Regions from separate parts of the Homo sapiens genome. Here region 1 is linked to region 2. The links come from fine-mapping of genetic effects on gene expression. A gene starts in region 2. The other region holds a variant in brackets. All regions are shown on one strand. Distances are between the middles of the regions.

Region 1 (5,384 bases), 38 kb before region 2:
TTCTAGTTTCCAAGAGAACTAACTTCCTACCACGTGTCAGGCTGCACTGGGAGCCATCCCCACCTGATCTCATTTGATCCCACAGTGACCCTAATATTACCATCCCCATTTTACAGATGAGAAGATGGAAGCTCCAGAGTCCCGCCCAAGATCACACCACTCGTAAGAAGCATTAACTAGAGTTGTGAACCCAGGTCTGGCTTTAAAATCCCACGTTGTTCCCATTGAGCTCTGCTGTTGGAGGAGTTTCCTGAAAAGCCCCCTTACAATCTGCCACCTTTTCGTTTAATTGAGTGTGCCACACAGTTTGCCCTCCAATCAAGACTCTGTCTTGTTCCTGGCTAATCATATGGTTGGTCTTTCTGGCAAGGCTAACTCTCCCAGAGTCAAATGGTTAGCATAAACAATCAGATGTGGTCCTGGGGGTCTACCATGAATGACTAAGACACTCGGATCACTTGAGGAATTCCAAAGGTTTAGAGGCTCCCTTCCAGGAGCTGGGATAAGTCTGGATCTATGTTGGGATAAAGTTAATTCTTCACCGTACACACCTCTATGGCAAAATACAGTCTCCTGGGGCTCCTGTTCTCCACAATGTCTCAGAGTTCAGAAAAATCCTAACACCGAGCATAGTCCAAAATAATGGGGCCAAAATGTGAGGCTGTTTTGATCTGCCTCAAGCCAGGGGTAAATTTAGAGTACTTAATGAGCTATCTCTGATGCATACACTAGGGGCAAACTTCCATAAGTATAGTCTTTCTCTCAGCTAAGTTTTTGAGAGCTATTGAGTCAGTTTACACACCCTGATAACCATTGGAGAACAAGTATTTGATGCTATGGTTAAGCATCAAACTGTGTGCCTGAAGAGTCAAACCAAGTGGGAGGTAGGAGAATCGCTTGAACCTGGGAGGCGGAAGTTGCAGTGAGCCAAGGTTGTGCCATTGCACTCCAGCCTGGGCAACAAGAGCGCAACTCCGTCTCGGGGAAAAAAGAAATGTCAAATCAGCTGGGGTGAGACCACCGTCCTCTGATGAATGAGGACACTGACCTATAGGGATTGTCCTTACTTCAAACATGTGCAGGCTTGGAGTACCCCTGGCACCTAAATGGATTAAAAATACATTTGTCTCTCAAAAATGTATGGGCATATGTCAAATTAGCAGCATTCTTACTGCCAAGCAAATTTGCTAGGTCTATTTTTGAGTTGTAACACTTTGGCAATTAAAGTTATTCAGAACTCTTTTAAACTCTGGGAAACCTTGAAACTGTAAATGAAATGTTGTACGCATTGTTGTTTTTTAAGTTTCAACTATCAAAACTCAACAAACTTTAATGAATTTCTGAAAGCATCGCTATGAAGGTGAGAATGGGGAGACACCATTACCACTGGATCCATTTTGTACAAGTGGGTCTATTCCCAGCTGTGTATGATCGTTATGTAATTGGCATCCGTTGAGTGTGTGCAGTCCAGATGGGCCTGTGGAAAATAGTGTGCAAGCACCTGTCACTAGTCATCATAGGCAGGCTCTGTTAAGCTCAGATCTGAAGGCATTGGTCTGTCTCACCAGGTCTACGCTCTGCTATTCAAAGAAGCTTATAGCAGCTTCAGTGATTATATCAACTTCCCGTTTAATGTAGGAAGAGAGTAGATCCACCTAGTCTTATCACTTCCAAGGGTAAATATTACGTTGTTGGTGACAATAAAATTGGCAAAATGAATGTCCTCTTAGATGGCAGATGTTATCAAGATAGCTAGCTGCCCAGGGCTGGGCGTGGTGACTCACACCTGTAATCCCAGCACTTTGGGAGACTGAGGCGGGTGGATCACTTGAGGCCAGGAGCTCTAGACCAGTCTGGCCAACATGGCGAAACCCCATCTCTATAAAACATACAAAAATTAGCACAGCGTGGTGGTGCACACCTGTAATACCAGCTACCTGGGAGGCTGAGGCAGGAGAATCACTTGAACCCGGGAGGCGGAGGTTGCAGTGAGGTGAGATTGTGCCACTGCACTCCAGCCTGGGGGACATAGTAAGACTCCATCTAAAAAAAAAAAAAAAAAGCTGCTCAGTCACTCCCGTAAAAGCTGCCAGCCAGGATTCCTGCTCCCCTTCTCTTCTGTGCCAACAGCTTCATCGGGAAGTTGGCCACAGGGCCCTCTTCACAGCCTGTCTTATCCTAAGAGTGCAGCTTGGCCCAGGGCTCATTGTCTGCCAGATTTACTTTGCCCTCAACTTCCTACAGTCAAAAAAGAACTGCTCGGGCCAAACTGCTTCCTGGCAAATAAAGAAGCAAAGTCCACACGAGGAGTCTTTCTGGACCTTGTGACGTTTTTGTGTTTTGTGTTTTTGTGGTAATGTGGCATTGGAATGTTTAGCAATATGCCATTGTGCAACCTTCCAAACCCCACTGGGCATATGATCAGCAAAACACCAAAATTATTTTAATGCATAATCCTTGGTTCACTCTGTTGATTATTTA[A/C]CTTTACCTGGGGTTGTTTGTTAACTTGGAAGAGGGTAATTACATGCATTCTACATTCCAGGGAACTGAACACTGTACCTTACCCAATACACAACAGGTGCATAATATAAGTTACATTAAATTCCCGTTGGGTTTTAAGTCAGCACATACTACATTAATGAATGTGAGTTGATTATACAATCCCCCCATGGGGTGGGCACCCTGAGAATGTTTCTTGTGATGTTAGAGTTTGGATATAAACAAAATCTTACTGATGTATTGTCCTTGAATGAACAGCCTCCATTTAAGCATGCGGGAGGGAGTTTGAAGGTGATCAGCAGAGATTCATATTGATGAAAGAAAGGAAATCATTTGAATTTAACATGGCAATTCCGGAAAAGTATTCCCATGTATGTGGGGCTGTCCTGGTCCTAGCATACCCTGGAACAAGTAGCTTCAGGGTGCATCCAGAGAAACCATAGAGCAGCTATAGCATCGAGCACATAAACCTTGAATATCATCTACCTGTACACTGCAAGAGGCAGCAGCTCAGGGAGCAGAGACCTCTGAGGCCCCCCGTGGTCATTCCTGTGATCGACACAAAGATGTGCCACAAGGTCAAGGAAGGACTTGTAGCCCAGCCCTGGGAAGTGTGGTCAGCAGACAGCCTCTAGCTGTCCGCAACTTCAAGGTCAGCCTCAGCTGTAGAGAGCTGCTCCCTCGCTGGAGGTCACAATTTCCCAGGGCAGCTGTGCCTGGTGGCTGAGCAGGGCCAGGATACAAGGCCAGCTATCATGGTGCAGCCCTAGCTCCATGGCTCTCCCGAGTGGCCTGGGTTTTCTGAGGCCAGCATCATCTAGGTTCAGCTCCTTCCTCTGCCCAGTACCCCTCCTTCTTTTTACGGAGGTTAATTCCTAATACACATTTGAAGCCCAGACTCTTATCTCAGCCACTGCTTCCAGAGAAGCCAGCCTGGGCAGTTGCACTCCCTGCCAGCAGCACCTCCCCTTGACAGCATTCTAGGGGGCATGAAGTTTTCACTGCTGAGAGGTAAAGAGAATACAGACTTGAGGCGCACACGGAAGCGCATTTGGATAGTCCCATTTTGGCACTGTCCCCAATTTTCTGTGGTTGGACCCTGATGTGAAAAACAAAAAAAAAGACACAGACCTAAAATTTTTTTATTATTATTTATTTATTATTGGGACAGGGTTTTACTGCAGTCACCCAGACTGGGTGCAATGGCACTATCTCTGCTCACTGCAACCTCTGCCTCCTGGGCTCAAGTGATTCTTATGCCTCGGACTCTCAAGTAGGTGAGGCTACAGGCTACAGGTGTGTGCCATCAAGCCCGGCTAATTTTCTTTTCTTTTTTTTTTTTTGAGATAAGGTTTCACCATGTTGCCCAGGCTGGTCTCAAACTCCTTGGCTTAAGTGATCTATCCGCCTTGGCCTCCCAGGCCTGAATTTTTAAAATCATCACACTATTTCATTTAGAAGAAACTGCATTGCAGATAGGAAAGTGGGGGGCTCACTATCAGAGGAAAGGGACCATTCACACCAATTCTTTTTTTTTTTTTTTTTTTTTTTGAGACGGAGTCGCACTCTATGGCCCAGGCTGGAGTGCAGTGGCACGATCTCAGCTCACTGCAACCTCTGCTTCCCAGGTTCAAGTGATTCTTCTGCCTCAGCCTCTGTTCACACCAATTCTTTACATAAAAATGACCGATTTTCAAGAAGCTCAACCTAAGATCCCCTCCAGGGCTATCCTGTGGAGGGCAGGGAGAGGAGCTCCCCAAGCTCTGATAGGAAGGGGCTAGGACCATTCTAGGTGAATCTTTCTAGCAAATTTCACAGAAGCTATTTGAAAACAGTATTGATTACATATACTAGAAAATAGTCATATCTGTTCAGAAAAATATTTGCAGGGAGTTAAACATGAAGAGTCTCTTCATCAGCTGATATTTTAAACTCCTTTCTCAAACTACTGACATAAGTATTGAGTCGTTATGGAGGGACTGGTGTATTTCTGGATTTAGTCAGGAGATTGAGATCAAAGATCCTGCTCTGTGTCATTTCAGATTCAGAGCCCATTTAGCATTTTTTTCATCTTGTCTTGACTCATAATTTGTTGCTTATATATTCACCTCCTCTGCTAGACCATAAAGCCCTTGAGGATAGAGATATTTTGACTTATTTTTGCACCCACCTCACTCCTCCATACCCGACTCCATGCACAGTGGAGTGCCCATGAGGTTGGCAATCATTAAACGAAAAGGTAACAAAGTTCAAGGAAAAGTGGCAAAACATTGCAGCTGTGCTTCATGCCAAGCCTGAAACGAGTGACAGAAAGTTCTACCGAAGGGGCCACAGCCATCCAGTTGGGCCAGTCTCTTTCCTGGCAGTATAACTTAGCAGGATGTTGAGATTTTCAACAGGTCTCAACAGGTCTGAAGATGGTCCTGCCATACATTCATTTGAAACCCACAAGAAGAACCTGCTCACTTGTTCATTGAGTTCACATGGTCCCAAGTGGCTCTGGGACACCTGGAACGGTCTGTGGTCCGGGCAGAGGGAGAAGGCGCTGGGGGCAGGGGTTTAGGGGCGCATATTGTAGGCAATATCCATGTTTTCCTAACTGGGACTTTGGTTGGTCAGGGGGATGTGTATGGATTTCCAGGTACCTAGGGACTAGAGATTCCTTAGGTCTCTTTCTCCCATGAAGCCTCTTCCTTCAGCCTTCCAAGCTGCCAGTATCCTCCTATCCTTCTGTGACCACCAAGTTTTCTAAGGCAGAGAAAATTACATTCTTTTTTAAACAATGAGTGCATCTAAATTCCAAACCACACTCTCCACATTTATATACATTACGTATATATATTACGTATATATACATTACGTATATATACACACACATATAATGT
Region 2 (5,384 bases):
TTCAGGGAACTCCAACCCCAGCCTACATCTGACTGCAACTGCATGAGAACCCCAAGAGGACAGAGCAGCTGTGTGCTGGGCACAGTCAGCACACAGAACCTGAGTGAGAAATACAGTGTGTGGGTTTTTTTATTTGTTTGTTTTGCTTTGAATCACTACAGTTTGGGGTGGTTTGTTATGTCGTACTACACAATTAGAAAAGACATCTTAGAATAGCAATGGGACATGAAGATTTTGGGTTTGTTTTTGGAATCAGCCTGGAGGCAGCAGGGAGGATGGGTTAAAGAACACAGAGGCTGAAGGCACCAAGATGTTAGGAGGCCTTTACGGGAGAAGAAGTGGATGTCAATGGGAATGGACAAGAAAGGCTGGAATCTAGAGATACTTGTGAGGTGGAACCGATGGGATATAAAGAGCAAATAAATGTGCAGTGGAAAAAAGAGGAAGACCGAAAACTTTCAGGTTTTTCCCAAAGAGAAGAAGTAGAGTACAATGTTCTTAATAGAAATAAAGGCCTATTAGGGAGGGTAGGTAATGAAATGTGTATGCCCTAATGGTGAGGGGTTTACAGGGAAACATTAGTGAACATTCCAAAGACACTGGAAATTTTGATTAAGGACACAAGGGAGATGGGGGCTGTACATAGACACACACGCAGGATCACTATTCCATATGGCAGTGGTGGAAGTTCCAGAGGTGAAATCGCCAAGAGAACATGTGCAGGGCAATGAGAGGAGGGAATAAATGATGGAACTCTGAAAGGAGAACCCAGTGGTCAGAGGAGGAGAGCCCATTAAGGAAACTGGAAAGCGTAAGTCAGAGAAGTCAAAAGAGAAACAGGAGACTCATGTCTTATAAACAGAGGGACAAGAGAATGTCAAGAAATATTGGGTTTTCATTGTAAAAAGCCACTGCCAGATCAAGTAAGGTGAGACTGTGTTATATGGTTTTCACAATTAAGAAGTCATCACGGCTCTCAACAGGACTGCTTTTAATACCCTGGCATTGATCAGAGTAGTTTAAGAAGCTGATTGGAGATTTAACAAGTAGAGACTACGAATGTAGATTACTCTTTAAAGAGAGTTGATGGTAAAATGAGGGAGGAAGAAAGATAAGTTAGTTTCTTTGAGCATGATTTTGGTCTGAGAACAGGTTTGCTAGCAAGAGTTCTCTGAGCAAATGAGAGGGGAGGATAGAGAGGTCTTCAGAGTTAATGATTTTACAGGCTTCTGCTCTCCAAGTGCAGTCAACAGGTCAGTAGCACCAGCATCACCTGGGAGCTACTTAGAAATGCAGAATCTCAGGCCATGCTGCAGGCCTAGTGAATCAGAATCTGCATTTTAACAAGATCCCCAAGTGATTAACATGCACATTAAATTAATACTCACTGCAGTAGGTGAAGACAGAAATGTGGAGGAAGGAAGAAAGATACAGAACTCTTGCAAATATTACAGTACTCAGGCCATTTTTTTCTTGTGCAATCACTTAGACATGCTTGGGTTTTTATCTGAGATGTAATGAGAAATGTTTAGAACATCCTTTAAGGGCTTCCAAATTAGTGGCATATATGGAAAATGAAGGTCTGTGTGAAGAGAAATCACCTCTAATGAAATCCAGATGAAAATCCAGACCAGCTTCCTGTTGGCAGGATTATTGATAGTGGAGGTGGAGATATTATCATTGCTTCAGCCTCACTCCCAGATAGTCCACTTTACTTGGTCTGAGGTAGAACTGGTACTATTATATACCTGTATATATACCAGTTATATATATATATATATGTGTGTGTGTATATATGTGTATATGAATATAACTGGTATATATACGTGTATATATGTATATATAATTCATTGTTTAATGTGCCAGCACTGTGCAAACTCAAGACGGGTGCTCATTAAATACTGAATTTCACAGGTAGTAGGCTTTCTATTTATGTTAGTTCTTCTTCCTACTCACCTTTTTAAGGCAGCAGTTCTCAAATTCTAGAATGCATTAGAATTAGAACGTGGAGTGCTTGTTAAAAATACAAGTTTCTAGAACCCATACACAAGGATTTTGACTTGGTAGGTCTAAAGCGAGACCCAATAATCTGCACTCGATAACGAGTACTTCAGATGATTCCAATGTGATCTCCCAGTCACGGACTGGGAAAAAAGCATTCCAAACTATTTTGTAGATCTCGAGAAAGACTTCAGAATGTTCGTGTCTCACAGGAAATAGCAAAAACAATATAGCATTCCAAAATCCTACCTAGCTTTGTACCGTGTACTTTGCTATTGCTGTTGGATTCAATTACAACGGAAATATTTGATGTGGTAAAATACTGAGCAGTGATGCTAACCTTTTATAGTAGACACTGGGAAGCAGAAAGGAAGTGTAAACACGTTTCCCTTAAAAACTAGTCTTGCTGGGTGGATAAAGTGTGCATACCTATTTTACAAATAAAGAATAGTGCCGCACTAGCTTATGTACGTAATATGTGCTTAACAAACATTTGTTCATTGAGTAAGTAAGAGTCAAGTCGAATGGCTCAGATTGTAAGTGCTATGAGAATTCCACTGTAAGAAGAGGGAAGTATGCCTTCTTTTCACCATTAAAGATCTGATTGCTGATATTGGCATTTTTGCCAGTAGAAGAGCCTGGACGTTGGCAGTTTTCAAAGCCCCCAGGTGATTTGACTGCGCAGCTAAGTTTGAGAACCACGGAGGTAAAGGAAGGGAGTACCTTAAAGAGCTAGGATTAGGGATAATATCAATAGATCACCTTTAAGGCTGCACCTCAGCCTAATTAAATCAGAATCGCTGGGGGTGGGACTTGGCTATCAGTCATCTTTAAAGCTCTCCAAGTGATTCCAATGTACAGACGTGGTTGAGAGCCATTGCTTTACTTGAATTCTCAGTGGTTCTTAATCCTGGCAGCATAATAGAGTCACCAAAGATACATATATATATATCAGTTCAGGAAGCAGAGTTGTTTCAGATGCTAGAACACCTCCAACGAGCAGTCACAGCTCTGTAGTTCTAGTGCCGCCGCTGCCAGCAAGTTTGTTGTGACCCTGGCGGCCGAGTTACTTTCAGCGCTCTGGGCGGTCTCGCAAGAAACACTGACGCTTTGGGACTTCATTTCCCAGCAAGACCCGCGGCCGCCTATCGCGCGAGTCATGCCGGGCACCTCGTCCCCCTGTCCTCTCTGGCGGAGCTGCCTGGCGGAAGCGGGAACGTCGCATCCTGAGGTAAAGGTGCACGGCATCCTGGGACATGTAGTCTGGCCGGGGCTCGGACGCCCCCTCGGATGAATGGGACCGAAGCTGACTGCGAACTACAGCTTCTTGGCAGCGTCGGTGTTGGCCGCGGGAGAAGGGGAGACCGCGGCGGCCCCCAGTGAGAGCGGCTTTCCAGGACGGTGCGATGTGCTGCGCAGCGAAGAGGCAGGAGGCCGGCTTCCTGGGGTAGCGGTACAGGCGGGCGCTTACTCTGTGCGCTTGCTTCCCCAACCCTGCACCGGCCATGCGCCCGGCCTTGGCGGTGGGCCTGGTGTTCGCAGGCTGCTGCAGTAACGTGATCTTCCTAGAGCTCCTGGCCCGGTGAGTGACCCGCTCGGGCCGCACCCGGTCTCCCGGGGCGGGGCGGAGGAAGCCAGAGGAGAGGTCCCCCCGGGACGCGCCCACGCCCTGTCCCCACCCCGCCGCCCACGGAGCCCGGGGCAGGACGGCCTGAGCCCCCCAGCAATCCGTCCTGTCTGGGCAGCCTGGGACCCCGCTGAGTCCGCTGCTTCCCAAAACTGCGCACCGGCGGCAGTCCCGCCTAACAGTTTCAAAGCATTCCTGCGAGGGGAAGACTCAGGGTGTTGCTGTCGTCACCCCTTTTCCACACTCGGGGGGTATTGAAGTCTGAAGAGTTTTTCACATGACCAGTCCAAGGTCGGCAGAGAGCTAGTGTCAGAACCAAGGTTCCTTCACCAAACCACTCTCTCTTCCTTCCCATCCAACTCTAGCTCTTTTTTCGATCCTGTTAAATGGCACAGGCTGGACTTGAGCAAAGGTTTTTGACTTGTAAAGCAGTCTGACTTTGTACATACTGCAAAGAAAGTTTTATTTTTATTACGGCATCCTGCAAAGCATTTGCTTTATTGGCCTTGGAAATGGTTATGAGTACTTTGCCCAAACATACATAAATGATGCGGTAGAACAGATTTTTATGTAGAAGATCAGTCCACGTGACCCGAGAGTGCTCTTTGAGGTGGCTTGCAAAAAGACAAAAAAAAAAGCAAGTAGAAGATTGGTCCAAGTGACCTGAGAGGGCTCTTTGAGGTCACTTTGAATGTGCAAAGTTCAGTGGATAGAAGCTATAACAGAAGAGACAACAGGTGGTGTGGAAAAGCCTCCAGGACTAAAAAGCTGGGTTGTGAATTTCACTCTTGGCTCCGTCGTCCACTGGCTGTGTAGCCCTTCAAGTCACTTAGCCTCTCTTGGGCTCCTTTTCCTGGCAGTAAAACAATACCTATAGTGTTCTCTAGCTCGTGTTTCTGAATCTATACATTACAAGTTGAGTATCCTTCATTTGAAATGCTTGGGAACGGGTGTTATTTGGTGTTTTTTGTTTTTTGTTTTTTTTTTGGATTTGGGAGTATTTGCATATACATAATGAGATATTTTACGGATGGTACCCAAATCTAAACACAAACTCATTTGTGTTTCTTATACACCTTATACACATAACCTTAGCTTGAAGGTAATTGTATACAATATTTTTAATAATTTGTACATGAATTAAAGTTTGTATACGTTGAACTATCAGAAAGCAAAGGTGTCAGGTGTGGAATTTTCACTTGTGGCATCATATCAGTGCTCAAAAAGTTTCATATTTTTTAGAGCATTTCAGAGTTCAGATTTTCAGATGAGAGATACTCAACTTGTATCTCTGTTGATCATCCGAACAATCCTGTGCAGAAGATTGGTCAAGAATTATAAACTGTTTTACTGAAGTGGAAATGGTCCAAAGAAGTTAGGTGACCCTTCACTACTTGTAAGTGGCAGAGCCAGAAATGGGACCCAAGATATCTAAGCTCCTAGTCCAATACCTTTTTCAACCTCCCTGCCAGTTTTGAACTTGAGCAGCCCATAGATTTTGGTCATCCAGTTCTTCATGTGGTGCCTACTAGAAGTTTATTTTATTTGATATCATTGATTAAATCATCCCAAAGCAACCAGTTTACTTAAGGTAAACTCTGTGTGGGGTTAAGTTTTGCTGTTACGGAGCTTGACATTTTATTGTACAGAAAGTGTTGATAAAGATCTGTTATTTGACTTGGGAATAGGTGATGAGGGATAAAAAATGAAAAAAAAATTGTATCCAACTGTAAATCTGATACACTTTTAAAGGAAG

Which allele goes with the higher level. Alleles are on the strand shown, and positions count from the first base shown. SD is a standard deviation of normalised expression in the study named.
For the expression in kidney cortex of the gene that starts at base 3,328 in region 2, allele C in region 1 goes with a lower level than allele A (small effect, 0.36 SD a copy in GTEx).

What was found. PIP is the estimated chance that this variant, and not a neighbour inherited with it, causes the effect.
Region 1: its variant is the best candidate, but not a certain one, in a credible set for the expression of SLC35B4 in kidney cortex (GTEx, PIP 0.60).

The regions. Positions count from the first base shown.
Region 1 is chr7:134,353,027-134,358,410 of GRCh38, reverse strand. No RefSeq gene overlaps it. Among named protein-coding and RNA genes, the nearest start is that of SLC35B4, 39 kb to the right of the region's middle. The variant A/C (reference allele first, on the strand shown) is at 2,482.
Region 2 is chr7:134,314,874-134,320,257 of GRCh38, reverse strand. SLC35B4 (solute carrier family 35 member B4) reads left to right here and starts at 3,328. Exons shown (of 10, transcript NM_032826.5): 1 at 3,328-3,583. The coding sequence starts at 3,507. RefSeq lists an enhancer at 2,808-3,537 and a silencer at 3,618-3,787.